Linked DNA regions of Homo sapiens: all the other regions are linked to region 1. Evidence: fine-mapped expression QTL. A gene starts in region 1. Each other region holds a variant in brackets. All regions are shown on one strand. Distances are from middle to middle.

Region 1 (10,314 bases):
GGCTGCCCCATCGTTCATTGCTCAATTAAACTATGTTAAATTTAATTTGTCTGAAGTTTTTCTTTTATCACTTCCTAGGAATGAAAATGGTTTTCATTTCTACTTGCCTATATCAAGTCTTACCCATCTTTGTCAAGCCTAGCTCAAGTTCCATTGCACAAAGGATGCCTTCTACAACTGCTTTAGCCCTATTATTCTCATTCTTTTCAGCCTACCTACGGTGCTTCTTATATATTCTATCTTGAATTGTTTTCTCATTATTACAGTTATGTGGACTTTGATCTTGAATTAATATTAGACTATTAATTCGTTGTGTTTTGAGACCATACTTTTTCTATGTTGCTTATAATAGTTATCTGATTGATTAATTAGATATTTAACACCCAGAAAGTCGGGAGAGGGGAGGGTGACACTTTAATTTTGAGCATTTCCAGTGATGATAGTGATCTTTGTTAAATCTACATATTATAAAGTCCATACTGATTAAATATGTCCTAATCCTATTAAAGAGACTTCAATTAATTTTTTGTTTTTTATTTTTTAATTTTCTTATTCTCAGATACTGATAATTTTTTTTTTAACAAGTGAAAATCTGAAATAAGCTTGGACATGTCAGAGTAATTTCTTTATGTGAATGTGCGTGTAAGATAGTTGGCCTGCATTAGCAGGCATTCACATTCATAATAATCTTTAGGTTTGAAAAATATTTGACAATTGCCTATTCACTATTAATATTCATGTCCTATACATGTGTACATTTTGAGTTGGAAACATAAAAACACTCCACTAATAAACAGTGGTAATAACTGTTCAAATCTGTATCCTATGGATCAAAAAAAAATTAATAATTGTCCAGGTCTTCCAAGATTTCCTCTATGCCAAATATTTTAAGTATGAGAGAAACCTTTAAAATCATACTTAATTTTAATAAAAATGTCATCTCACAGCACACTGAATAAAAAGAGGGATTAGGATCAATCCAAGAACCTAAAATATCACAACATGGAATAGAATTATCCATGAATTAAAAAGATGATTTAAAAAAGGATAATTCCTTGAAAATAATCTGATAAAATAAAATACAATTAATTAAAACAGATTAGTACACAATTTTACATTTAGAGACTGAGAAAACAATTAGGTGTGTTAGAAAAATGATTTAGTATTGAACTGATCAAGATTCTTTAAGTTATTCCTGGCTTATATAAAGTTTATGCAGCAAAATCATTTTTTAATAGACTACAGAAAGGAGGTTTTAAAAAAAATGATAAAAATTATCTCAGACGGGGTGAGGAAAAAGAAGAAAAAATAAAATAAAATAAAATAAAATAAAATAAAAAATGGATAAAAAGTTCAAGCCAGTGGTCAGGCACGGTGGCTCACCTCTGTAATCCCAGCACTTTGGGAGGCCAAGGCAGGTGGATCACCTGAGGTCAGGAGTTCGAGAGGAGCCTGGCCAACATGGTGAAACCCCATCTCTACTGAAAAAACAAAAATCGGCCGGGTGTGGTGGCAGGTGCCTATAATACCAGCTACTTGGGAGGCTGAGGCAGGAGAATCGCTTGAACCCGGGAGGCAGAGGTTGCAATGAGCTGAGACTGTGCCGTTGCACTACAGCTGAGGTGACAACAGTGAAACTCTGTCTCAAGGAAAAAAAAAAAAGTTCAAACCAGCAATGACATGTTAAGAATAAAGAATTAAAAATGGATAGAAGAGGAAACTGACAACTTACTCTAGGAAAATTTCAGGGAAAATTTTAGACTATGTACACATAATACATTGTGAGCTAGACTGGGGAGAGTGTTGGGCAGAACAATAGGAAAAAGAGCAAGAAAAAGGGGGATGTGCGTATCAAAAGGAGGAAAGAAAAGTAGTTTGGACAGACAAAAAACCTAAGAGAGATATTGGCGCCTTCTTATGATATCAGCGGAGGACAGGAAGAATAAATGGTTTTCAAAATTTTGTGATATTGACTTTAAGTGATTTATTACAAAGGCATTAGGATCGAAAATTGGAAATGGAAGGAAAGGTAAAAACTCTTAGGTTACTGATTCACAAGGTCTGTGAGAATCCTATATATATTAATAGCTTTTTGTTGCTGTTGTTTAACAAGAATAGACATAAAATAACCATTGGTTCAGCAAACATTTACTGAACTCCTATGTGTCAGGCACTATGCAAGTCACTGTCAAAATAAATTAAAGCCTATAAGCAGGTGGAGGGAACCCTGACAAACATCTGTGCAGGCTTTTTGATACAGATAAGAAAACAATCAACTTTGGGTTACTTCGTGAATGATCCTCTATGAGGTAAATTGATGGCATGAAAAATTATAAAGAAATGCTGTTTAAGAGCTTTGAGCCTGAGGATCCTTTCTTCCAGCAAAATGCTAAATTTGAAAAGATCCTTTAGATTCTGGGCAACACAAAGGTAGCTTAGTTACATCAAACTGGCTGGGTATCTTAATAGTATTCATTAAAATGGAGTTCTACCTGGATTATATAGTGGAGCTTGTTAAACAGGAATCTCAGCTAGCATCCAAATAGGTGCTTCTGTGTTTAGGGTGTGTTTTATCTGTTGGAAAGTTACTGAGGCAATGAGAACTAATGCCATCAGCTAGGTACACTGCAGCTTTGAAACTATGGACTATTGCATTTCAATTAAAATGACATTTCTTGACTGAATTCTGACATCCTCAGTGATAGTGGTGAATGAAGACTTTTATCAAAGTATAGATTCTATTAAGCTTTTAAAAAATTTTATTAATTTTTTTTGTAGAGATGAGGTCTTGCTATGTTGTCCAGGCTGGTCTTGAACTCCTGGCCTCATGCAATCCTCCCACTGCACAGCCTCCCAAAGTGCTGGATTACAGGCGTGAGCTACCCTACTCGGACCAATGTAAGCTTTTTTGAATTAAAAACAGGAACTGTAAATAGCATATACGTAGGATTCTTAATATTTTTACTTTAAATTCTAGAATTTGAAAAATAAACTAAAATTGAATACAACGTAATTGAGACAAATATATCTGCACTGGAAAATTTAGCTTACAGAGTCCCTTCATGCTATTGCTCAGTCTGTAATTTTAAGTTTAAGAGCAGGTGGAAGCTCTTCAGCGGTGACCGACAGACACCATAAAAGGTAGAAAACTGAAAAAGCCTATTTCCTGTATCTAAAAATTTTTTGTAAAGAATTCCAGAAGTCACACCAAACCTTTGGCCAATTACTGAATGCTAGAAATCTCATTTGGGAGCTTACTGTAAATGTGTGTGGCAATGCACTGGCTCCATGTTCAATCCAACGCCAACATGTTGAAATCAGTATTTTTGTGCTGGCCCAAACCTGAACCAGTAGAAAATCTCCCATAACAGAAATTCAATGTTTGTGAAAGCATGATTGCCCTCCCATTTCTTTTTCACCTTCCTGTGCCTTTCATAAGTTCTTCCAGTTGGTTAATCATTAATTAATATTTAACAAGGCTTTTTCCTCGTGCCAAGTCCTCTGCTAGTCTAGCCTTTAGGCAATATATGAACTCCCCAAGTTCTTCCCTTTTAAGAAGCCTTGGCACTCACTACGGATTAATTTCTCTAAGGAAATTCATAATGGCAGATGAAATAGGGGTTCCTTTTCAAGAACATTCCATTTTAAAGCCTCTCAGCATTTTTTCCTGGTACATGTAAAATGCGACTTAATTGAACTAATTTTAAATGTTGACAGAACTTTCCAAGCACACATTTCCTCAACAAAATGGTTACGACTGGAACAGGAAAGGGCTTAGACTTTTTCTTCTACAGCTATCCCACAAGTCAGTCTCTTGACCTGACCCTGCAAAATCCCTCAAACTCTGGCTCTCTGAGTTGATTTTGGATATACGATGAACCATAGGTTTGGAATGCAGATAACCTCCACGTGTATTAATGAAAGAGGTCAGCTATGACGTGGAAGCCATCTCCTGGGCAGAGAAGGAGAAGAAATGGCAGTCTGGGGAGTAGTAACATGTCTCCAAATTTTCTCTGGTGAAAGGAGACTGATGAGAATTGATACCCATTTCCGGTCAAAAGAGTGGAACCAATGTACTTCCAACCACCTCCTCTCAACCCCTCTCCGCATGGACAAACATACCAGACAGGTGATGTGGGCTAACAATTTACTTGGCATGAGGCCAAAGGCTTGAGGGCCCTGCCCTGCCCATATTCTTCTCCCTTGACTTCTTAAGGAAAGGAATGATTGCTGATGTTTCCCTCTGCACCCTTTGGCACCTGGACTGATTGTTGCAGATGTAATTAGGAATGTTCCCCAACATGCCGTTATTCTTCTCACGATTCTGGGAGAAACTGTACCCCTCCCCCATAGACTTATATAGGTGGCATTCAAATTCTTGTTCCCAACTTTTTCATCTTTTTATTAATCCCACAAGATTGTGTGAATGTGTACTCCGAGCCAGGCACGTTGGACTTCTAACTTCCTCTTAGCCCAAGTAGGAAGGGGAGACTCAGGCGCTGGGGACCATTCTCCTCTCCCTGCAGCAGAGTTGCAGTCCCTATCCCTCCTGGGTGCCCATCCCCGTGCCTATTTTCCTGGATCCCCACCCAGTTGATGTGACAGGCTCGTGGCCCAATCCCCTTCCTGGTTCCCAGGCCGACTGCTAGCACCACCCGAGCCAATGGCGGCGGCCGAGGGGCGGAGGGGGCTGGCAGGAGGGGAGGGAGCGCTGGCTTTAGAGCCACAGCTGCAAAGATTCCGAGGTGCAGAAGTTGTCTGAGTGGGTTGGTCGGCGGCAGTCGGGCCAGACCCAGGACTCTGCGACTTTACGTAAGTGCTTTGTAGGCGCCGGCGGGCACTAGGGGAGCGGGTTTCCTGGGCGTGGGCAGGAGTGGGTCCCGGGGAGAGCATCTCGGTTAAGCTCAGCAGGAACGTGCGGCGCACCGTGGGGCGGGGGTTGGGGGAGAGGGAGGTCGGAGAAATTTCAGTTGGAGCCCTCGGGCGCCCGGGCGATCGGTCGCAACCGAAATGGGTGTGAGTGACGGGGAGTTTCCCTACTAGCATCCGCCGCAGACACGTTTTCTGCACTTCACTGTATTAAGTGGTGTTTTCTTACTAGTTGCTCTTAACTTGTTGCCAGTCTTGGGCTGGAGTCCTAGACGCCAGCCCTTGCCCTGATTCCCCTCCGCGGCTGCGGCCCCGAAGTGGAAAGGGAGCGCACAACTTCCCTCTGTCGTCCTTCTCCAGCTACTGCCATCCCCTCTTCCCTCCCGCCCGGACTCAGGAAATCCCGGAGCCAGCAGCCTGCTACTCCTCCAGCCCCCACACGCCCGCCTCGGGTGACCTGGCTGGCTTAAGCCGACCCTGGGGCTCTGGAGAGGGGGGGCCGTGGCCGAGGGAAGGCACGAGGTTTGGGTTGCCTGCCTTCTGCCTGCTTCCCTCCCTTGTCCTTAGCGAGGGCGTCGCGAACGCACCTAGTCTCCCTATGAGTAAGCACTTTTTTTCCTTTCAGTAGGAGAACATCTCTGGGCTAGTAGGACAGTACCTTTCCGTTCTCCCCTGGCCCCACACCCCCTGTCCTTTTTTCAGCTCCTTTGACTTTGCGGCCCCGGGCGCGCGGTCGGGGCGGCGGCAGTCCCGGACCTCTCCCGACTCTTGGAGAGGGAGAGGCAAAGGGGCGACGGGAGGGAGGTAATAGTCTACCCCCCCGCCCTTTCCCCGCACAGCTGCACTTGCCTGTGTTTACTTTTCTCCACCCGCAGTACTTAAGCGCTGTAATGAGAGGCCCGGGGACGCCGACCACCCCCGCCCTGGCTTCTCGCCAGTCCCAAAGTTGCTGCCGCCGTCGCTGCTCCAGTGTGCTGGCGGTTCCGACCGCCGGGCTCCGGGACGTAAGATGATCCCAGCCCGGGAGGTGGAGTGGGGGTTAATGGCATCTGACTCTAGCCTTATGCGATGCTCCTTGCCTCTCACCTGAGCTGCACGATATCCCCAGTGGTGCAGAAGGTTGAACTTTTGCAGAAGGTTGAGCTTGGAGCTAAGTGGGTTGGAGAGCCTCGCCATTTAGCGTCAGACAGACGGGATGCTGGGGGCGCCCGGCCTGTTAAGAGGGATTGGGAGGAGGGAAGGGAGCCTGGCTAACAGTAGGTAGAAAATGTAGGGAAAAGTAAAAACCATTGAGGGGCAAGCACTTACTCCACTTTGCTGGATGTCACAATGGACTGGGGAGCCTAAACTTGATCCTCGAGATGCAGTTCATGGTGAATTCCAACTAAGTGGCTGGAGCCCCACACATACCAGTTGGAATCACGTGCCCCAAGTCTCTGATGGTCACATGACGTCTTTTTACTTTAAAGCTGGAATGTAATGGTTGAGGCCCATATTCCAAAAACCACCTCTACGTTTGAAAAAAAAAAAGGTGGGGAGGAGTGTGAACTAGCTTCTAATCAAGGAAGTCTACTAGGATTTTGGATGAGGGGACCAGAAAGGGAATTTGGTGCTCAGCTTTTATCCAAAACAAAAACAGGAGCTGTTTTTAAAATAAGGGATTGAAATATATGTGAGCTGGGACATGTATCTCCTCTCTTCTTCAATCTCATGGTTTTTCTAAATTTAAAAAACATCTTACTAATTATTTTCTAGGGAAGTCATCCTATTACTCATGCCTCATTTTGTCCCTGAATACTAGATTTGAAGCTAAATCCCACAAGATAGTGTTAAAAAGTAAGGCTCTGTTCATCTTCCTTGGTCTGGCCTATATTCTAATTGAACTGTTCCCTATTTTAGGCAACTACTTAAAGGTAGTAAATAACCTCTTGACTAAAATTAACCACCAGTTATTTGTGGTTTTCAATTAACTGGATTAGAAATCATGCACAAAAACAGTGGATAGTAAATTTGATACATCGAGTTGGTTGGGTTTTTGCCTGTCAGTGGTTTGGTAGAATAATGAGAGGACACTGAAACAACTTTCCCATATTGACCTATACCCGCCCAAGTGGCCCAAGTTAAGGTTGCTTCTGGGAAAACGTGGCAATTTGGCTATTCAGATTATATATTACAGAGTATAGAAGAGAGGCAGAGGAGCCTCTGAGGTCAGGAGTTTAAAAGCTTTGCTTATCTGAAAAAAAAAGAAAAAACGGACCTGGTTGATGCATATTCAGTCTTGAAAACAACTAGGGCAGAAGATATTTAAGAGATTCTGACTTTGTATTCTTTTGCCAAAAACCCTTTGTCTCCTGCAGCAGCCTCTGAATGACCGGAGCACTCCAGTTTCTTGCTGTTCATCCGTTTCTGAGCCTGAAAACTAGAACAACCTTAAAGCACATTGTTCTGACCCCAAGGCTAGCCTTGTGGCACAGATGAGCTGGAAATGGATTTAAGGTGCACCTGAGTTACTAGAGTTAACTACACTGGTAGATAGACCCCTCTAGTGGAAGTGAGGTGATAATATAATTTTAGATCGAAATAATAAATGTTTAACCTCAAAAAAAGGAAGTTATTACCACTCAACTAGGTTACAGTGGTAGGGGGATAAGTTCTTTTTTAAGTATTGTGAAATCATGTCTAAACAGAATCATCGCTAGGCTCTAGTCCACAGCTTTTCATTGTCTTGGGATGCCTACTCATTGAACACCACCCCCAATATTGCTGACTTTTTTTGGTGGTATGATCTAATGAGCCCAAATTTTTATTGAAATTAGGGGGCTGGGAGTCAAATTCTTGATTTTTACTGTTAGATCTAGCAGATAGCAACCCCTTTACCTGAGGTGGGGAGCTATTAATAAATAAATAACACTTTGCCTTGACTTAATACAGACGATCAACATTGAAGTCCAAAGTCTCTAGTCTGATGTAACCATTTAGATTCAATTGATAAAAATGACTAGGCTTATGGCATTTTGGGTAGAAGGATTAATTATAACTAGTGAGTAATAATTTGGGTGAGATTAAGCCTCTTCCACAAGTGGTTACACGCACATTAGACTTTGACTGTGACTGTTTATACTGGCAGAATGTCAGTATCTAGGGCACTATCAGAAACCCAATGAGATTTTTCTCCCAGGAGAACAGAATTCTGTTACTGAAAATAAAAGGGCAGCTTGGCCATGGTGCTTGAGCACCAAAGTGGTTCTTTTTGGTGACACTGAGAGGGTACAAGAAGAAAGTCCATTTGCCATTATCCCATATTCTGTTTTAGGCATTATTTCTACTTGGATTTTCATGAAATGTACTGACAGTGTTCTTAGCACATATGATAAATTCATGAGTTTGCTGTTGTGTTTGATCTAGCATAATCTATGTGGAATGTATAAGCTGAACTGTTTCTTTTTTGATGTTTGGTACAGATTATGAAAGTAGCTGGTATAAAATAAAATTTGAAAATGAATATCTCTCAATACATGACAACAATGGGGTATCTGTTTTTAGAATCATGTTGTCTTTGGTCATATGGCAATTTTTCTTTTGGTGAAGAGTGATCCAGAAGGCAAAATTTTTGATCTGTGAAAATAATACAACTCATTTAGAAGAAGTCAGCTGGGTCATGTTTTGAGTCTGTATTATTTTAGACAGTGATATACCATATAATGTATATTCAGTGTGTTGGAGGTTTCAAAGCTTTTTGGATACATTACAATGTTGGAAGATTTTTATATACCAGTGGTCATGACTAGCTGATTTTAGTTATGAGAGCGCTTTGGTTAAAGTTATGGAAACAGTCTAATCGTGAAATGTCAGTCTTAGAAGATCTGATCATACTTGGGCCAATTTATTTTAGTTACGGAGGTGAGACAATTTCAGAAGATTCACGATAAATTTAATAATACCAAATTTTGCCTTAGTCTTGACACTTGGAAGATAAATATTAGTGAGTATAAACTGTTTTAGGGATGAAGAAGTATTGTTAGTATACAAAAATGAAAATACTAATTATTTTAGCATGGGTCTTTTAGTCCTTTGCAGTCTGGACAGATAGATTATCTTAAGTAAATCATTGAACTTGCCCTCAGAGGAATTAGATTCTAGATAGTGCTCTGCCATTGACTCATAATTTGACCTTCGGAAAGTCATTTAAAATTATTATATTAATAACTAATTGAGTACATACATGTGCCAGACACCATTCATGCTTTTGTTTATAAAAAGAGAGGATTGCTCAAGCTTTTTGGTTTGCTGGGTTTTATTTTTTCAAATATTCATAATCTGGCTTATTTCACTTATCAGTTGACTTTTCAAACTTTGATGCAATTGCATTGATCCAAGCTAAATACTTTGTTGGCAAATTGATGACTATTCAGGAAAGTGATCACCAGTGGGTTATTCCATGACTAATGTTAGTTCTTTAAAATAAAGAGGTGCCATTTATTTAATTCCTTGACAGGGATTTTTGGTGCATTAAGCCTACTGATTTTATAATATGAGAAACCTTACATTTTCTTAAAAGTTTAGAAACGTATTTGATAATAAGGAGGTAGTGTTGTTTATTGGAAAAGCATTGAGCATAGAATTTAGGGTCTTTTAGTCCTTTGCAGTCTGGACAGATAGATGATCTTAAGTAACTCATTGAAATTTTCTGTGGTCATATCTGGGTTTCACTTTATTTTTAAGCCATGTGATTCCAATCTACATATTTCACAGGCATGGTAAAAGGATAAGTGAGAAACGTGAAGCCTTGGCTTTTAAGCAGACAGGTGCTATATAAATTCAAAGTACTGCAGCAGTGTATCATAGAAACACTAAAGCTTTAACAAGAGTTTACAGAAATGGCAGGGTTCTCATCACGTAAGTCTTGCCACATTTTTCTTTGTCTGTAAAAGTTCTGCACCCATCCAATTTTTACAAGCAAAGGAAAAATAAAGCCAGACATATTATAATGAAAAATAAGAGACTAGGTTGATAACAATAGAATAAAAACCTACATGTGATACTTTCTTCTTCTTCTTTTGTTTTGTTCTGTTTTGTTTTGTTTTAAAGACGGAGTCTTGCTTTGTCGCCCAGGCTGGAGTGGTGCAGCGGCCGTGATCTCGGCTCACTGCAAGCTCCTCCTCCCGGGTTCAGGCCATTCTCCTGCCTCAGCCTCCCGAGTAGCTGGGACTACAGGCGCCCGCCACTGTGCCCAGCTAGTTTTTTTGTATTTTTAGTAGAGACGGGGTTTCACCGTGGTCTCGATCTCCTGACCTCGTGATCCGCCCGCCTCGGCCTCCCAAAGTGCTGGGATTACAGGCGTGAGCCACCGCGCCCGGCCCGTTTTGTTTTGTTTTGTTTTGAGATGGAGTCTCGCTCTGTCGCCCAGGCTGGAATGCAATGGCGTGATCTCAGCCCACTGCAACC
Region 2 (10,314 bases), 43 kb after region 1:
GCTGTGTCGCCCAGGCTGGAGTGCAGTGGTCCAATCTCGGCTCACTGCAGCCTCCGCCTCCTGGGTTCAAGCAATTCTCCTGCCTCAGCCCCTTGAGTAGCTGGGACTACAGGCACGTGCAGCCAGGCCCTGTTAATTTTTGTATTTTTAGTAGAGACGGGGCTTCACCATGTTGGCCAGGATGGTCTTGATCTCTGACCTTGTGATCTGCCCGCCTCGGCCTCGCAAAGTGCTGAGATTACAGGCATGAGCCACTGCGCCTGGCTGAGAAATACATCTTTTTAATTGTGCTTCACAGCTTTGTGTCCTGGGCAAAGTCAACGACTATCCCAGGCACTTGTTTATTCCCTAATACAATTTAGGGAATGAAGTTATGGAACTCTACAGACTTCTTAGCTTTCAAATTCTCATTGCTGTGATCACTGGATATTGGGAATACTGGGAATTTTCACTCCCTCTAAACATTGCAGTTGGTTGGAGTATTTTATTCATTTTTTATGTTTATTTTTTTAGAGGCAGGCAACCATAGCTCACTGCAGCCTCAAACTCCTGGGCTTCAGTGATCCTTCTGCCCCAGCCTTCCTAGTAGCTAGGACTACAGGCTCAGGCCACCATGCTGGCTGATTTAATTTTTTTTTTTTTTTTAAGAGAAGGAGTCTCGCTATGTTGTACAGGTTGGTCCCAAACTCCTGGCCTCAAGCAGTTCTCCCACTTCTGCCTCCCAAAGCACTGGGATTATAGGCATGAGCCACCACCCTCAGCCTCAGTTGGTATATTTTGTAAACCATGCCTGTGTAACCAACATCCAGCAATGAGAGTAAAAGGTGAAGTTTAGACTGTTCTCCAGAAACAAACAATCATGAAATGAGACTTGCAAAGCAAAGAATTACACAAGTTTTTGTGTGCTGTTCGTGAAAGAAGGATTTTCTTTTATTGAAGAAGATTGTTCTCTTTGACCAAGTTTAAGAATCTATGTAAAGAAGGTAGATAAACTGAACCAAGTAGGACAATGGAAGTCCCAGTTAGACTGACTGTCCTCATATCCACTTATGTAACTATAGGGAGAAGTCTATAATTAAATTTCAAAATTTTGTGGCAAGATTCTAAATTCTCTGGGAGTTGAAGAGAAAGATCAGTGGGAGGTGGAGTCATTGGGAAACGTGCTTTGGGAGAGGATGAGGCTTCTGAACCTTGCTTGAAGGGTGAGTAGAATTTGGATAGAGAGAGAGGAAAAATAGAGGAGAGTATTCTAAGCATGAGACGCAGATAGAGAGAGAGGAAGTTCTTAATGGAAGACAGGAAAAGCAGAAGAGACCAGAATAAAACAAAAGGTACTGATAGAGGAGAATCCAGAACCAGCTGTAATAGAAACACAGTTCTGTGAGAGTACTGGGAAGATAAATTTTATCTTGGGTGCGGACAATCTGAAGATACTTCCTGAAATAGGCTTTTGAAGTGTCTAGATAGATGGGTGAAGAGCATTCCACTGGAGAGACCCAGTGGTCTCTCCAGGGAGTGGAAGAAGCGGGAAAATACATGGCCTGTTTGGGGAATAAGGTCTCTTGAGAGTGTTGGGTTCAAGGGTGTAGTACATATAATGGGAAGTAGCATTGGAAAGATGGGCAGACATAAAGCTAGAAGTCAAGTCAGAAAAGTGTAGGGCCTTGAATGCTGTCCTAAAAAGGTGGGACCTCCTTTTGCATGGAATGTTTATAAGATCCGCTCTTCAGGAGATTATCAGGAGATTAGCAGTGTAAAGATTGCACTGGAGGAAGACAGAACAGCAGGCAGATCTGATAAAAAAAAAAAAAAACTTTTGTGGGGTTGGGGGAGGGGGAAGGGATAGCATTAGGAGATATACCTAATGTAGATGACGAGTTAATGGGTGCAGCACACCAACACGACACATGTATACATATGTAACAACCCTGCACGTTGTGCACATGTACCCTAGAACTTAAAGTATAATAAAAAAAATATATAAAAAGATAAAAAAAAAACTTGTGGAGTAGGCCAGACATGAGGTGATAAACAGATATGACGGAAGAATCTCAGATATTGCAAGGCAAGAATCCAGAGGGATGGGTGGTTGACTGATCCTCCCTTTGTTTTTTATGGTCAAACTGCAGTCTGGAGACAGAGGAAAGTGGGAAAGTTGAAAACGAGACCTGATTTGGCAGAAGAAAGAGTTAGAAAAAAACAGGGAAAATAATGTGGCAGTAAGTTAGATTGGAGACACTTAGACTTTCCTAACTTGAATCGTCCTCACTGACTTTCCTTCTCCCTTGGCCACTTCTAAATTGGACCCTGATCTGCTGCTGCGAGTGTGTCTGTCACTAACACAAGGCACAATACCCTTACCAGTGATGTCTCTCTGAGAATGCCCTTACTGGGGATGTCTATCTGAGAAAATCCTACTTGCACTCAAAGACAGAGTTCAAGCCTCACCTCGGAAAAAACTTTTCTGACGCCTACCATTTAGTATATATGACTGTGATGGCATGATTGCACTAATGTTGTATCTTTGTTTTTCCATCTGTTTCCCCCACTAGACAGTAAGCTCTTCCAGAAAGAAGGGGATTTGGATCCTAATTGTCTCTTATCTGGAGCACCCAACACAGTGCCTGGTACATACTAAGCCTTAAGTTAATGCTTGATTAATATAAATAAATAAGTGGGTGAGTGTGGTAGACATTCAAGCTGGGAATCTTCTAAAGTCATTAGGAAACATGAGACTGGAGCTTTAGTAATCATAGTATGAATAGGTGAGTTTTAGCCCACAGTGTTGCACACCCATCTAAGCTAGAGACTAGTGTTGAGCTGTTCACTTACCTAACTAGGGAGGTGGCAGGGTGGCAGTTTCTATTGGTAAAGGTAGGTATGCAAAGTGTGGGTGTTCAAAAGCACTGCCTGTTTTGGATGGAGGAAGGTGACAACACCCCTTTTCTGATCATTCTTGAACTGTTCACACATAATGGTGGCTAACTTGTTTATTTTCATTTATAGTGAAATAATGTATTTCTTCCATGTTTTGTCCCCTCTTTGTTGCTTTCTTGTTCATTTTAGGACCTCAAGTATGTGTTGCCCAGTCTCTGATTTAAGTAATGAGCTTCTCTTTTCCAATTCTATTTACCATACTAGTGGCTGGGATGAAGCCTGTGGTGAATATCCTGTTTTTATCTTTTGGCTGCCTTTCAATTTAAAAAAAAAAAAAATCAAGTTTATGATCAAAGTTGGTTACCCCCAGATGAGTTTCCCACGTGCATTCTCTTTCTCCTGGACCTCATGGTACTGAATGACACAGATGAATAAGTAGATTATTCAGTCAGCTGCATTCCTAAAGTGAGTGAGTGCTTTAGGAGATAAAATAGGCACCCCCGTCCCCCTTCAAATACCTTTCAGAATTTGAATAATAGTTTCAGGTAGTTGTAGGTATACCTTTCTCAGCAAAGATCTGTGTTTAGGGTTTATGTATAGTTAAATGAGCCGGTGGAGTGGTTTCATAATTGCAGTATTGTTAGTCAAACTCTGTAATTAGAGATGACTTCATAGGCATAAGATTCTTCTATGGGTGACGCCCTGAATTCATACCCAATTGTACACTATATCCTTTTATGAAAAAACAAACAAACAAGGTTTTGTTTGCTTTTGTTTTACTCCCTTATTTGAAAATCTGTTTTCCTGTGTCTTATATGTTTAGTGAAGAAGGGCTGGCTTTTTTCTACAGCTTTCCCTTTTCCTTTACAGAAATGGCAGGCATAGGAGCTAAGGAGGAAACAGAATTTGGGACAGATCAAAGTGCTTTGCAGATGAGCGAATTCAGAAAAACGTAGAGACTCCAGGAGGTTTTATTTTTGATAAGTATTAAAATTGCTGAGTTTAAATGGAGGAAAAATATATCTCTATTTCTTTGAATGTCAGTTCTCTTTCTCTCTCCCTCTCTCTCATCATGTAAATAAAGTCCGCTTTTGCTTGGTGGCACACATCTGTATTCTCAGCTACTCAGGAGGCTGAGGCAGGAGGATTGTTTGAGCCCAGAAGATTGAGGCTGCACTGAGCTGAGATTG[C/T]ACCACTGCCTGGGTGACAGAGTGTAACCCTGTCTCAAAAAGAAATAAACACATAAAGTCCACTTTTGTGGGAAGACAGACTGGGAAAGAGGACATATTTGAAAATCAGGGTTTTTTTCCTTTTGCCTGTCAATCACATATTGTGAAATCGGGGTTAAACTTTTATTCAGCAAGTAATACTTTCTCTTCACCTTTTTCTAGTACTCATGAAAAAATTTGCAAATTAGGAGGAATGTGACAATATTGACAAGCTGTTAGCTATTTTGAAAAGTGATCCTAAAATATTTAAAGAAAAATTGTTGTTTGTTTGTATATCTCCTGTCTGCTCTTTAAATTGTGTTTAGAAACTGGCCTTACGGAGGAACCAAATTGAGTCATGGATAAAAAGTGACTGACAGGTTTTCCTTTAGGCCCATCCTTCTTAAATTACTTTGACTAAAGACTTGTAATTTTTATATATGAGGGAGACCTATTATACTCTGTAGTCAGTAATTATAGGGAGATGAGATAACTTTTCATTTATCCCATGTAAAAGGCTATTAGTAGAACTAATGCCTTATATTTATTTATACAGCTCTTCACAATTAACCCAAGCATTCATTTATTCCCTATTTTCTTTCATGAAGGATTTGAAGTTGCTATGTAATACTTCATAGTTCACAATATGCTGTCATACATACCATCTGTAATCTTCATTAGGACCTGGGGGAAGTAGGTATTATTATCACTATTTTCAAATGAGGAAACTTAGGCTGAGACAGATTAATTAAACTTGCTCATGGACACATTACTAGGGAATAGCAGAACCAGAGCAATAATCGATGCCTTCTAATTTCACGTCCAACATCTTTCTGTTAAAACATACTACAACCTTGGGCGCGGTACAACAGCTTGGTGTACTGGTACTTGAGATTAAATGAAGTGTCTACAGGGCAGTATTGATGTCAAATCTTGTGTTTTGCTTTGTGAACCCATCCGGGATGTTTTAGTAACTTTAAGGGAAAAAAGTCCTATAGTACAATGAATGCCCCATGAAGAGGAATAGAGCTTCTGTTATTTTAATTTGTAAGATCTTTATTTTTTAATATCTTCACTCATTTCCAAGTTACTTAATGTGATGTTTTCTCTCAAGATAGTACTTTACTGCTTGACTTCCTTAAAGACACCATCAAGTACCTATGAGTAGTCTTAAGGACAGACCATTTTTTAATTCATAGTGGCATAAAGAAATCTACATTAAACAACTTTATTTTAAGCTTCAAATGGCAAAATGTACAATTGTATCAGCTAGAGCATATATTGTGAGCTTTTTAAATTTGGCTTTATATTTTTTAGTCTTGGCCCAGGTACTTCAGAGTAGCATTTCTTTATTTCCTTTCAAATAACTGTCAATAAATGAATATGGGTTTATTTAAATTGGAAAGTCCTGCATTAAACTATTCTGTTATCCTGAAACAACCTTGTCTGGAAATACGGTTTTAAGGATATGTGCATGTTCCAATTCCTTCTTTTTGTTCTCATTGAAGTGTATCTCTTTAATGTCTCTGATAGATGGGAAATCTGAGTTACATATGCAAAGTCACTTTAGGCTTTTTAAAAGGCAATTAGAAATAAGAAACTTGAAAATTTTAAAATATATGTTTAATGCACTGGATTAATTTTTGGACTAAACTGGTGCCCTAAAATTATTTCTATGAGATCTAAGCATTTCTTAATTCATTTTTATTTTTTACTTTTTTTATTGAGACAGGGTCTTGCTCTGTCACCCATCCTGGAGTGCAGTGACGTTCTCATGGCTCACTGCATCCTCTACCTCTCGGGCTCAATCGGTCCTCCCACCTCAGTTTCCCAAGTATCTGAGACTACAGGCATGTGCCACCACCCACGATGCCCAGTTAATTTTTTGTATTTTTGGTAGAGACGAGGTTTCACCATGTTGCCCAGGCTGGTCTCGAACTCCTGAGCTCAAGCGATCTGCCCACCTCCACCTCCCAAATTGCTGGGATTACAGGCATGAGCCAGCACTTGCTAATTTTATAGGAAGAAAAAAAGAACTGCGTTTCTGGCCACTCTGAGAAGAAATTAATAATCCTTAAAGTCTCTAGAGACTTTTTTCTTCTAAAAAAATGGATATTTGTACCTTTTATTGCAGTCACTAATTCACTTTATGTCATATTGTAATTATTCATGTTTGCTTCGCAGATTGTAAATTCCTTGAGGGCAAGAACTAGGTGTATAGCAGATGTCTAAAATATTGGTAAAATTGTTTGAGAAGTAGCGGGGAGGGGCAGGTTGGGGAGAAAGAGATTTCTACAGGATTTAATCAGAACCCAACTGGTCAGCAGGGATAAGGGGGGCGGGGGGCAGGAATGGTTTATGTCCAGAACCATCTTATCTAATTTCTTTTTTTTTTCTTTCTTTTTTCTTTTCTTTTCTTTTTTTTTTTTTTTTTTTTTTTTTGCAGTGATGCACTGATGGCTCACTGCAGCCTCGACCTCTCAGGCTCAAGTGATTCTCCCACTTCAACCTCCAGAGTAGCTGGGATTACAGGCACGCACCACCACTCCTGGATAAGTTTTGCATTTTTGGTAGAGACAGGGTTTCACCACGTTGGCCAGGCTGGTCTCGAACTCCTGGGCTCAAGTGATCTGCCCGCTTTGGCCTCCCAAAGTGCTGGGATTACAGGCATGAGCCACTGCACCCAGACCTAATTTTCTTTTGCATAGAAGTGATATGGTAGTGTGAGAGTAAGCTCAGTTGTATAGGTTTGTTTTAGTTGTTTTTTACCCACATACTTTAAATTATTACTGACTCACTATCTGCCCAAACTGGAAAGGACCTTTAGAGATAAAGGAGAGAGGCCACATGTTTTAGATTTCTGAGATGGTCTTACTTTTAAATTTTCTGTGCCATTGTTCTCCTTGGTGTGTGATTCATGGAGATGTGTAATAATTCTTTATTAAAAACATGATTGCTTAAAAGGGGTGAAGAAAATTGGAATAAATCCTATGTCGTATTTTTGTAATGGGGAGTGTTGAACATATTAGTGAAACAGAATATTTTTAGAATTACTACTATTCGTTTGCATTTAACTTACGAATTTTAAAAAAAAATTTTTTTGGAGGCGAGGTCTCACTATGTTTCCCAGGCTTGTCTTGAACTCTTGGCCTCAAGCAATCCTCCCGCAGTGCTGGGATTGCAGTTCTTTTTATTCTTAATCTTTAAAATGCCTAACTTCAGGCCTGGGCGTGGTGGCTCATACCTGTAATACCAGCACTTTGGGAGGCTGAGGTGAGTGGATTGCTTGAAGCCAGGAATTCAAGATCAGCCAGGGCAAAATGGTGAAACCCCATCTCTACAAAAAATACAAAAATTAGCCAGGCATGGTGTCCCACGGCTATAGTCTGAGCTACTTGGGAAGCTGAGGAGGGAGAATCACCTGGGAGGGAGGAGCCTGGGAAGTCAAGGTCGCAGTAAGCCGTGATCTCACCACTGCACTCCAGTCTGGGCTACAGTGTAAGACCCTGTCTCAATAAACAAACAACAACAACAACAACAAAAAAAAAACCCACAAAGCCTAACTTCATTACTAACTGAAGAACTTTCTTTCCCTCATAGATCCTGAGATTACTCTGAAAGGTATTTTCATCCAACCTGTCTACTGAGAAGTTATCCATCTTTAGTGGCATCTTGATATCATACATAAGAAAAGTTTATGAATAGGCCAGCTTTGTTTTATATCTTTTTTAAAGAGTCTAGTGTTATTTAATTTTTTTTTTTTTTTTTGAGACAGAGTCTCACTCTATCACCCAGGCTGGAGTGCAGTGGTACGATCTCCGCTCACTGCAACCTCTACCTCCCAGGTTCAAGCGATTCTCCTGCCTCACTCAACCTCCCGAGTAGCCGGGATTACAGGCACCCGCCATCACACTTGGTTACTTTTTGTATTTTTAGTAGAGACAGGGTTTCACCATGTTGGTGAGACTGGCCTCGAACTCCTGACCTCAAGCAATCCACCCGCCTCCACCTCCCAAAGTGCTGGGATTACAGGCGTGAGCCAGTGCGCCTGGCTGATGGTTTTATTTAATTTTTAAAACACCAGTCACTGTATGTGTCTGTTACATTATGGTAAAAACTTAGCTAATAGCATCATATGGTCATTTTAAAACTTCTCCAGGATTTGAGAAACCTGAGTGTGAATTCCAGTCCTGAGAGCCCAGGTCTTCTAATAGGAAAAAAAGGAGATTAGAATATTTAGCTCATAGGACTATTGTGAGGGTTTAGGAAATTAATATGCAAATGAATTTGTATAATGTATTAATAATACTTGGTGCATAGTTGTTGAAGGGATTAATTTTATTAAAGTTCTGTTTTATTGAGTGCCTTACTATGTGCCAGGGGCTGTGATAAATTCTAGAAATAGCAACAATTCTGTGAAAAAGATAGATGTAGCCCAGCTCTCTTATGAATCCCTCCCTACCACTTCCAGCCCCTACCTCTCTATACTGAGTGTTACACTTCTTGGCCAAAACATAAGTTGGTGAGTAATTTGTTGCCTTTTAATAAAATGTCTAAAAGGGATAAATGTAAGATCTCAAAATGTATTTTGTATAGTTTGTGAAATTTAACCCGTAGTATATTTTTTTGGAAAGGCAACATCTTTAGGGCAGTGGAACTACTCTATGTAATATGTTAATGGTGGATACATGTCATTATACATTTGTCCAAACCCACAGATTATACAACACTAAGAGTGAACCCTAATGTTCACCAGAGTCTTAGGGTGGTAATGATGTAAGTTCATCAGTTGTAACAAACGTACCACTCAGGTACAGGATATTTTGGTCAATGACTGATCGAATGTATGATAGTAGTCGCATAAGATTATAATACTATATTCTTACTGTACCTTTTCTATGTTTAGATATACGGATACCATTGCATTACAATTGCCTACAGTGTTTACTACAGTAACCTGCTGTGCCATTTGTAGCCTAAGAGGAATAGGCCATACCGTATAGTCTAGGTGTGTAGTAAGCTATACCATCTAGGTTTGTGTACGTGCACTCTTTGATGCTTGCACAATGGCAAAATCACTTGACAATGCATTTCTCAGAACACATCTCTGTCTTTAAGCAACACTTGGCTGTATTTGGGAACTCTCTGTAACTTCTGCTTGATTTTGCTGTGAACCTAAAACTACTCTAATAATAATGTCTATTGGCCGGGTACGGTGGCTCACACCTGTAATCCCAGCATTTTGGGAGACCGAGGCGGGAGGATCCCTTGATCCCAGGAGTTAGACACCAGCTTGGGCAAGGTGGCAAGACTCTGTCTTTACAAAAAAAGAGAAAGAAATAAAGAAAAATAAAGTCTACCAAAAAAATAAATCAGAAGAGAGAAAAAACCCAAAACAAAAAAGGAGAAAGGAACATGTAATCATTTTCATTTTTCTTTGTCCAAAATTATTGTTATAATAGGTTTGCATTTGGAAATTATCTACTGTGATACAGACCTCCTCTCTTTATTGCCAGGATCAGCAAAGTTTTTCCATATAGGTTCAGATCATAAATATTGTGTGCCAAGAGGTAAAATCAAGAATATTATGATATTAATATCAAGGATATAATATATTATTTCTATCAGTTTTTATTGACAAAATTCAAAATATAATAATTGAGTACAATTTTTTGGTAATACAATTCTGATAAGAATAGAATTCTTTTTTTCTGGGATAACATTTCACTTAATTGGGTTCAAAGTTAATGTGCCCCCATCATCAAAATGGACTGCAAAAATTTTCCTTTAATAACCATATCCAGCTTGAGGTCATACAAAAACAACTGGTGATCCAGTTTTGGCCCACAGGCCATATGTAGTTTGCCAACCTTTGTTCTGTTAGTTAAATAGATCAATAAGGCCAAATTGGAAAGGGTGTATACTCAGATAATATAATAATTTACATGCATAAGAATGTGTATATTAGCACACATGTGCATTTTTATATCAAAACCAGCTATAATTTGTTTTGTTTCCTCTTTATTCTTCCTTTAATGAGAGTGATTGATAGATGTCAGTATGCTATTTGAAAATCAATGTCTTCACAGTGAATGATTCTAAAGTGGCTTAATGGGAAAATGATACTTTCCGTGAATCATTGGTCACATAATATTGACCTTTAGCTTTGGCTCATATAACCAAGAATTTCTATTATGTAGCTTTTTCCTGTCACTGCTGGGTACTTTGG
Region 3 (10,314 bases), 26 kb after region 1:
AGTTTGAGATCAGCCTGGGCAACGTGGCGAAAGCCCGTCTCTACTAAAAACACAAAAAGATTAGCCAGGCATGGTGGTATGCATCTGGTCCCAGGTACTCGGGAGGCCGAGGTGATAGGATCACCTGAGCCTGGGGGAGGTTCAGGCTGCTGTAAGCTGTGATTGCACCACGGCACTCAGCCTGAGTGACAGAGGGAGACTCTGTCTTTAAAAAAAAGAAAAGAAAAGAAAAAGCTAATAAAACCTTGATGACAACATAGCCAAAGAAATTAATCAGAGAAGAGTGGTGATTAGAAACAGAAAGCATAGTGGAATAGATGAATTACACCTGGCAAAGGAACTCTAAACTATATTATGTAAAGCTCAGGACAGTCTACTTGTCTGAAAAAGAAATACCAAAAGTATACACATGCAAAAATTTGGATTTTTCAGCTGGACTTTTTGTGAAAGGTTCCCTCCCACCCCAAATTCAAAAGAAGTATAAAGCAGGCCATTCATGGCAAACTCCCAATGAAATGGAATTAATTTGTATTGTGTTTTGAAAGTGTATATATGTGCTTGCAGGAATTACATGGAAGAATTATACTGACATAGAGTGGCTCTCAAAGTGAATAATGGAATCTTAAGGATGTTTTATTAAACAGCGAGTCAACTATTTTTCTCCGTGAATGTGACTCCACAATGATAGTGGAAGTCAGAAAATATTTCACATGCAAATATATCTGAAATTCTTCATGGATGTATTTAACGCTTTGAAGTGATGGCAACATCTGGTAGCAAGTAGAAGCCAGCGTCTTAAAAGCTATGGCTTCATGTTACTACTTCATCTGAATTAGTCATTTAAAGGGGATTTTATATGTCTTCCTAAAAACTGACGAGGTTAATCTTAGACTAGGGCAGGCTGGCAGGAAATGCTAAAGCGGCTCTTTCTTTTGAAGGTTTTGTTATTCCTTGTGAGGTCAAAAAGTAGTTGTTTTAAAGTTTGGAAAGCTAAAGCAGTGATGTTTTGACTCTTGACAGTGAGATGTTTTTCTTTTTTTTTGGGGGAGGGTGTGTGTGGCAAGTTTGAGGAAAAACTTGATACACTGAGAGTTCTTTATACTTTCCACTCCACTTATTTTCTCTCAAATGAATTTATTTTCTAAAGGTGCAGAATTTAGAAATTCGTTTCAATTACCAAATCTGAGCATGGATTTGGTGCTATTAGAAGATGTAACCACCATGTGTTTGGCCAGATTAGCTTTCAGGAATGATCGTATCTTACAGAGTTAGCCAATGGAACAAGAGTAGATGCCTTTTATCCTTATTTATTTGCTTTGCATTAAAAAGACAAATGCTGAAAGTTTATTCTTGACTATGAAATAAACCACTATAATATATGACACTGAGTTAATTCCTTTAGGATGCTATGTCTTCCACATACATCCATTTAATAAATATTTGTTGAGTGCCTACTGTATGCCAGGCACTGTTCTATAAGCTGAAAATAGATTGCTGGACAAAACAGACAAAAAATCACTGCCCTCTTAGAGCTTATTAAATACGAAAACAGTAGAGCAATTTAAAATTATTTAATGCTATCACTCAGCTTTTAAAGATCTTCACTGAATGAGTTTTGAGAACTTTTGCACATATTATCTACAGCTTGAATAGGGAAAAAATGACATTTTGTTTGAAATCTAGTTCAAGAAGCTAGAAGCTGATAAGTAAAGTAAATATTTTATTCTGTGATGATCATTTTCAGTTTTCATTTATCAGTGTTATACTTAGGCCTCTTGAGGAATGTTACTAGTTTAACTTGTGGATTTCCTCCTGAGGATGGGCTTAATTTGTATTGGGGGAGGTGGTGAAAGGACCTAGTAGCCCTGGAATTTAATGTAAAGTCGTGGCATTTGTAAAACTATCTTCTGTCATTTGAAAAATTATAGAATACTTAAATGTATTTAATGCTCCCTGTGGAAAATGAATGTATTGCTCAGTTATTTTTGCCTATGTGAGTAGTACAAGAGCTGACTCAAAGGAGATGACATGATGGTTCCTGTCCTGAAGTGAAATAAGATGATGGGTTGTGGTGGAAAAATGATGTGGTCATGCCCATATTTGCTCACATCTCTTGTTAGTTTCCTTTTATAGAGGGAAACCAGGGAAAGTCTCATTTCTTATTTTTTGTTTCCTTTTTGTATTTTCTTTCATACGCCATTTCCCTTTCTTTTTTTCTTAAAATTGCATTATAGTGACTTCCAATTCAATTGGATCAAGTTGTACTTGGTAATGACATAAAGAAATACCGCTTAGAAAGGTCATAGTGGAAGCATTATACCCATTTTAGGGAATTGATTATATATATAGACACAGCCACTCTGAGCCCCTTGAGGATATGAAAAGCATGTTGCAGAAATCCTCATATTTCCTGATGCCAACTAGTATAGTGCCTTTTACAGAATATATGCTTAATCGGTATTTATCTATTGAACAAATATGAGCCATGAAATTTAATTTTGCTCTCCAAAATCCCAAGTCCTTTATATAAGTAGGCAGAAATTTTAAAAAGTCTTTTTTTTTGTTTGTTTGTTTTTTGAGACAGAGTCTTGCACTGTGGCCTGGGCTGGAGTGCAGTGGTGCAATCTCAGCTCACTGCAAGCTCCGCCTCCTGGGTTCAAGATTTTCTCCTGCCTCAGGCTCCTAAGTAGCTGGGATTACAGGCACCCGCCACCACGCCCAGCTAATTTTTTGTATTTTTAGTAGAGACGGGATTTCACCATGTTGGCCAGGCTGATCTCAAACTCCTGACCTCGTGATTTGCCCTCCTCAGCCTCCCAAAGCGCTGGGATTACAGGTGTGAGCCACTGCACCCGGTCTAAAAACTTATTTTTATGGAATTATTCAAATACATAATGTAAAATAGCATTAAAAACCCCCAGCTTTAACAATTACCAGTATTTCATGTTCTTATTTCATCTTTGCTCTCCCCTTTTTTGAGATTTGCTTTAAAATAATCCGCATATTGTTTTACCGATAAATACTATAGTATACTTCTTAGTTTTTAATATTTTAAGATAGTAGTGTTTGCATTTCATATGGAGTTTTACTTTTAAACCCTTTCTGTGCTACTTTATGCAAGAGAAAGAAATTCTTAACCGCTTATCAGAAGAAAAATCTAATTTTTTTTTTTTTGACGGAGTTTTGCTCTTGTTGCCCAGGCTGAGGTGCAATGGTGTGATCTCGGCTCACAGCAACCTCCGCCTCCCGGGTTCAAGCCATTCTCCTGCCTCAGCCTCCGAATAGCTGGGATTACAGGCCTGTGCCACCACACCCGGCTAATTTTGTATTTTTACCGGAGACGGGGTTTCTCCATGTTGGTCAGGCTAGTCTCGAACTCCAGACCTCAGGTGATCCACCTGCCTCGGCCTCCCAAAGTGCTGAGATTACAGGCGTGAGCCACTGCGCCCGGCCAAGAATAATCTAATTTGCTGTGTATGAGTAGGATGTTAACTCATTTTGTAACATATATTTCCTTTCTTAATCTTTTAAAAAATTTTATTAAAAGTTTCTAAACAGGCCGGGCGCTGTGGCTCACACCTATAATGCCAGCACTTTGGGAGGCTGAGGCGGACAGGTCATGAGGCCAGGAGTTCGAGACTAGCCTGGCCAACATAGTGAAACCCGGTCTCTACTAAAAATACAAAAAAAAAAAAAAAATAGCCATGTGTGGTGGCAGGTGCCTGTAGTCCCAGATACTTGGGAGGCTGAGGCAGGAGAATCGCTTGAACTCGGGAGGGGGAGGTTGCAGTGAGCCAAGATTGTGCCACGCACTCCAGCCTGGAGGATGGAGTGAGACTCCGTCTCAAAAAAAAAAAAAAAAAGTTTCTAAACAACATTGTACATGTTATGTCATGACTGTCATGATAAAGTCTTGCCTTTTAGACATGAACCTGATTCAGCAAAATGTGCTTTGAAGTAGATAAGCTGTAGATTTTTGTCTTGCCTGAATTGATATTAAAGAGATGTTTTTTCTTTTCACAGTTCAAAAGTACAGAACTCAGGTTAAAACCTAGATATGTAATTTTGTTAATTTTATTTTCAGTTTGAAAATTCTTGTTAAAACCTGCATACTTTATAGGTTTGCTGTCTCTAAAATTAGATGGCTCCTTCATAAATATTACTGAATAAAGCACCAGTTTTCAAAAAGTGTGGCACATGGGCTCATGGGGGTTAAAATTACTTTCATGATAAAACTAAATTGTTATTTGTTTTTTCACTGTGTTAACATTTGCACTGATGATGCAAAAGCAGTAGTGGGTAAAGCTGCTGAATCAAGATAGTGGCCCCACACTGTAGTGATAGCCACTGTATTCCTCAGCACCATACCATCACCTTTAGAAAAAAATCTTACAACATGCATTTCATTTACAAATGTACTTGATGAAGCAGGAAAAAATAATTGTATTAAATCTCAATTCTTAGGTATGCATCTTTTTAAATATTGTGTGTGATGAGATAAGACATACCCATAAAGTATTTCTGCTGCATATGGATATATGACGATCGTCTTGAGGGAAAGCACTTGCGCAGCTGTTTGAGTTGTGAGCTAAACTAGCTGCCTTTTTAAAAATAGAAAACCAGGCCGGGCGCGGTGGCTCACGCCTGTAATCCCAGCACTTTGGGAGGCCGAGGCGGGCAGATCACGAGGTCAGGAGATCGAGACCATCCTGGCTAACACGGTGAAACCCCGTCTCCACTAAAAATACAAAAAATTAGCTGGGCGTGGTGGCGGGCACCTGTAGTCCCAGCTACTTGGGAGGCTGAGGCAGGAGAATGGCGTGAACTAGGGAGGCGGAGCTTGCAGTGAGCCGAGATCGCGCCACTGCACTCCAGCCTGGGCGACAGAGCGAGACTCCGTCTCAAAAAAAAAAAAAAAAAGACAACCAGTTTTACTTTGAAAGATTGAATTAACTGATTATTCAGACCCGAGTATCTAACAGATACTTTATTTTTAAAAAATGAACCAAGTGTGCCTCTCACTGCAAGGGAAACAACTAAGAGTATTTGTTGCCAATGCTAAAATTAGAGCTTTCAAGCAAAATTCAAATTTTTGAGAACTTGCATTGGTCACCATTTTATCCGATCAATACTTAGGCTTTTCTAGTGAAATCGACAGTATAATTAATGAAAATAATGTGTTAGATTTTGTATAATGAAATGTATCAGCATTTGGAAGACCCACATAACTTACTGAAACAATATTTTTCCAAATAACTAATGTATGATGTTACAAAATCAAGCATGGGTAAAAGGCCCATTCTAAGTGCAAGACAGACAAATAGATTTTGAAAAAATCATTGATATTGTATCAGACTCTACATTGCAACCAACCTTTGAAAAACTACCACTTCTCTCGAGTTTTGGTGTAGTATTGAAGAATATCTGTAAGTATCTGGAAAGCCTCTTAAAGTATTTCTTTCTTTTTACAACAGTTTATCTGTAGGAGGCCAGATGTTCTTCATGCACTGGAACCAAAACCGGTATTGCAAAAGATTGAATGCAGAAGCAGATATGAAAACCCAGCTTTCTTGTTCTAGGTTAAACATTAAAG[T/C]GATTTGCAACAATGTAAACAATGCCACCCTTGTCACTACACTTTTTTTGAAAATATAGTTATTTTTCATTAAAAAGCTTATGTTAACATGTAATGGGCTTATTCTTATTTTTAAACAAATAAATATCTTAAAAGTTTCGTAGTCGCAATTTTTGATGTGACAAATACACTGATAGATCTAACCCATGTGTCACCAAACTCTTTGGGATCCTCAGATCCTGAGGCCAAAAAGTTTAGGAACTGCTGAGTTGGGTTTTTTGTTGTTGTTTCCCTCCTTATCCCTTTGCCCCACCCCTCCACTTTTCTCCTATTCCCCTCTCCTTTCTTTTCTTTTTTTGAGTGAGAGAGAGACCCTCAGGATAGAAAATTGTAGAGCATGTGAGTTATTCCTTTGTATGTTTTTATTAGCTACGAACTGAACATGTATGTCTTTTAAATTCATTCATTGCCCCATGTGTAGTTCGATGTATTTTGACCTTTTCTTTTATTTATTTTAAAATTTTGATTACTTAGTTACACAAATAAAGAGCTAATAAATACTATCAGGGAGACAGCCCTTGGAATATTGAATTTTATATTTTCTTCTGCGACAGTCTTGCTCTGTCCGTGCAGTGGCAAGATCACAGCTCACCTCCTGGGCTCAAGCTATCCTCCTACCTCAGCCTCCCAAGTAGCTGGGACTACAGGCGACAGCCACCATGCCCAGCTAATTTTTTTGTATTTTTTTTGTAAAGACAGGGTTTTGCCATGTTGCCCACGCTGCTCTCGAACTCCCGGGCTAAAGTGATCCACCCACCTCTGCCTCCCAAGGTGCTGGGATTACAAGCACCAGCCACCACGCCTGGCCAGAATATTGAAATTAAGATATATTCTGACTTATTTTTCCCCAAATATGAAAAAAATGATTACATATATGACTTGATTATTAAAATTGACACATCCATGCAACAAGTTTATATACCTAATGCTGTGCCTGGTATGAATTTCCTAAACTTTCCAATATAGTCCCAAAATTACAGTAGTAGTTTCTTGAATGTAAACTTGTTGCCTGTTTTATATGTTAGATCCCTTTGCTTCTATGCTTCACTCACTATGTTTGTTTGTTCGCTTTGTTTTTATAAGTCATGAAGATGGAAAAAAAACTGTTTCATGAAAGGAAAATAGATGAGTGTTGTTGAGGTGTGTCATTAAGCACAGTGGGAGAGGCCTCCAATGTACGTGTCACACATGGAAAGTATACCTAGTACTGGGTGTGGTGGAGAGCATGACGTCTGGATGAAAGTTGTAAGAGACTTTAAAAATACTATGCCTAGCTTTTGTGTTACAACTACATATTCCACTGATACTTATGTGAAACTCCCATAACTTTTCGGGTTGTACCTCTTTTTTCCACCCTGGGGTGGGAGTGTGTCCACAAGTGCATGTGTGTGAACTCTTAACTTTGTGTTTGTATTTTGAGATGGAGTCTCTGTGGCCCAGGCTGGAGTGCAGTGGTGCAATCTCTGCTCACTGCAACCTCCACTTCTGGGGTTCAAGCTGTTCTCCTGCCTCAGCCTCCCAAGTAGCTGGGACTACAAGGGCACAACACCAATCTGGCTTTTTTGAATTTTTGGTAGAGACGGGGTTTCACCACGTTGGCCAGGCTTGTCTGGAACTCCTGACCTCAGGTGATCCGCCCACCTCAGCCTCGCAAAGTGCTGGGATTACAGGCCTGAGCCACCGCGCCCAGCCCGGCCTGAACTCTTAACTGTATGGTTTCTGTTTGTAACATCTAGAGAGAGTGACAGTGAGAATTTGGTTTCCGTCGGCTTTCCTTAGCATTCATTTTGATGAATTTGGGATGCAATTTAAAAGCTGTTTTCATTCTGTGGCCTGCTGATGAAAATGTAGAATTTATTGCAGAACCCTTGCCACCGTCTTGCATTCCCAAACCAGTGTTCATTACCCATAGTAAAAACCGAGATCCTGTTCACACACATGCACATACACAGACACGCTCCCCACCGCCCCCGTCACGCACACACCCACACACACCTCGGATGGTGAGTGAGATAGAAGTTTAGTTTACATGCTAAAACTGGTTAAATTACTGATGTGGTAGAACTGTCTTTTAGCCCGGGCACAGTTGCTCACACCTGTAATCCCAGCACTTTGGGAGGCCAAGGTGGGTGGATCACCTGAGGTCAGGAGTTCTAGACCAGCCTGGCCAACATGGTGAAAACCCGTCTCTACTAAAAATACAAAAATTAGCCGGGCATGGTGGCAGGTGCCTGTAATCCCAGCTACTCGGGAGGCTGAGGCCAGAGAATAGCTGGAACCCGGGAGGCGGAGGTTGCAGTGAGCTGAGATCGAACCACTGCACTCCAACCTGGGCGACAGAGCGAGACTCCGTCTCAAAAATAATAATAATAAATAAAAGAAACAAAAAACTGGCCGGGCGCGGTGGCTCGCGCCTTGTAATCCCAGCACTTTGGGAGGCTGAGGCGGGCAGATCCCAAGGTCAGGAGATCGAGACCATCCTGGTTAACACGGTGAAATCCCGTCTCTACTAAAAATACAAAAAAATTAGCCGGGCGTGGTGGCGGGTGCTTGTAGTCCCAGCTACTCAGGAGGCTGAGGCAGGAGAATGGCATGAACCCGGGAGGTGGAGCTTGCAGTGAGCCACGATCCCGCCACTACACTCCAGCCTGGGTGACAGAGCGAGACTCCGTCTCAAAAAAAAAACAAACCAAAACTGTCTTTATGTCCTACCTAGCATTTACTAAGTAGAAGATGTGCCCTTTTGAAGGGCATGTCTATTCCTAGAACTTTAACTACAATGCTTTGCAGTAGAAATATATGCTATTGTATTAAGGTGAAGTGACTTTAGAATTAGTAACTCGGTGTTGACAGATCATGCTGATCGAAGATTAGCCTTGGAGTTTGGAAAGCTGGAGAGCATGTATATTCCAGATGACCAGGAAAGGAAAAGTCAGAAAAACAGTTTTTAAGTAGTACTGTTATAACGACCTGTAAAACTTGAAACGAGAGAAAGCTGTCTTCTAAAATGAAGAATTACATATTTAAAACATTAATTTCCTCAATGATACTGCTACATATCTGAAAAGGGTGGTTACGTAGCATTTGGGACAGACCCGTCTCAGTGGTTTGAGGCAACAGGTGTGGCTGAAGAAAAGGTAAGGCTGGGGAAAAACCAACATTTCTGGTCTAAACTGATACTGTCTTCTTACCTGAGGCAGTTTCCTATGCCCTGGTTTTCTCTGTCTGAAAAATGCATGATAACACATACTCTTCAAATTAGCTCAAAATGCTTGGTAGTTACCTACTATTCCCTGACAGGCCACAGGCAGATAGTTCTATGCTTGTTTTAGAAATGGAGAATTTGGTACTCAGAAAAGTTGAAGAAGCTTCATTTCATTCACATAGTGAGTCAGCAACAAAGACAGACGGAAAAACATGTCCTATGACTCCTGCCATTGTATTCCTTCTCTTCTGCATTGTGTTGCCTTTTGATATTTCACGAAGGTTTTGTGATTGGTGAAATAAATTAAAGCACTTCCATGAAGGAGACAAAATGTAACCCAGTGTCTGCTGATGGTGGTTAGTGACGAGGACAGGAGAACACTGCCTCATAATGGGGACTATCCGGTGAGGGCTCCTTTTCACAGGTGCCCACACTGTGAGTCACCTCCTTATGCTGAGAGTTCGGTATGCTATCATAAAATACTTTGTTGTGTATTATTTATGAAGGACTAGAGTATCTATTGTCTCACTTTCTTTCATTCTCATGAGGTAGATTACAGCAGCAGATGGCATTATGCATGCTTTATCCCAGACACAAGAAAATAATATCTGCCACTTACTGAGTACCTTGCTGGACCCAGACACTCTTACATATTTATATCTTCCCATTGGGTCATCCCGTGGACCTTGTGAAATATGTGGAATAGCTCCATTGTTATAGATATGAACCCAGGGCTCAGAGAAGCTAAGTAATTTGTTCAGGGTCACACAGACTTACAGGTCTGTCAGACTCCTAAGACCCTGATGCTTTCATTGTGCTGCATTTCCTTCAAATTATGAACTTGCCCTATGTCAGCACAGAAACGGCCTCTTCAGCCTAGCCCAGTGCTCCAACTGATTGTTCTCTCTCATAAAAGGCACTCACAACTAACCACTTGCTTGATTTAGGAATTCACTGATTAGATTGCTAGACCAGTTAAAGGCAAATTTCAATAATGAGAGCAGTTATCACGTATCTAGTACTTACCATGCGCCAGACTATGATCTAAATTTATGACACATATTAAATCATTTAAGCCTTACAACCATGTATAAAATAGTGAACTGCGATATGATGGAGTTGCTCTTATCTTCATCCCGGGATGAGAAAATAGAGGCAGAAGAGTTTTAAGCAATTTGCACAGTTAATAAAGTGTGGAGCCAGAATTTGAACCCAATCTGGCTCCAGACCTCTTTACTACAGCTCTCAGTTAGAAAATTATTTCTAACTGAGATATTTCGGTTCAGCAAGTGTTGGCTTAGTTCCTGTGTGCTATGCCAGCAGAAAATATAGTTCCTACACAGAAGAGCTTACATTTTTGACATAAATCAAAATGTATATACTTGAAATAAATGCTACAACACCTTAGCATATGGGGTGTAAATGTTGTGTATGGATCAGCATGAATAATAGAGACTGTTAGTGAGTGGCTTGAGAG

Which allele goes with the higher level. Alleles are on the strand shown, and positions count from the first base shown. SD is a standard deviation of normalised expression in the study named. Not every link is listed here.
With allele T in place of C in region 3, the expression in pancreas of the gene that starts at base 4,726 in region 1 is lower (small effect, 0.39 SD a copy in GTEx).

Evidence for each region. PIP is the estimated chance that this variant, and not a neighbour inherited with it, causes the effect.
Region 2: its variant is fine-mapped to the expression of PLS3 in whole blood (TOPMed, PIP above 0.99).
Region 3: its variant is fine-mapped to the expression of PLS3 in pancreas (GTEx, PIP above 0.99).

What each region holds. Positions count from the first base shown.
Region 1 is chrX:115,556,449-115,566,762 of GRCh38, forward strand. PLS3 (plastin 3) reads left to right here and starts at 4,726. Exons shown (of 16, transcript NM_005032.7): 1 at 4,726-4,812. PLS3-AS1 (PLS3 antisense RNA 1) reads right to left here and starts at 6,283. Exons shown (of 3, transcript NR_110384.1): 1 at 6,178-6,283; 2 at 5,956-6,082. RefSeq lists enhancers at 5,500-6,275, 9,646-10,210.
Region 2 is chrX:115,599,664-115,609,977 of GRCh38, forward strand. All of the region lies in intron 1 of PLS3 (plastin 3), which reads left to right. Among named protein-coding and RNA genes, the nearest start is that of PLS3-AS1, 42 kb to the left of the region's middle. The variant C/T (reference allele first, on the strand shown) is at 4,068.
Region 3 is chrX:115,582,832-115,593,145 of GRCh38, forward strand. All of the region lies in intron 1 of PLS3 (plastin 3), which reads left to right. Among named protein-coding and RNA genes, the nearest start is that of PLS3-AS1, 25 kb to the left of the region's middle. The variant T/C (reference allele first, on the strand shown) is at 5,594.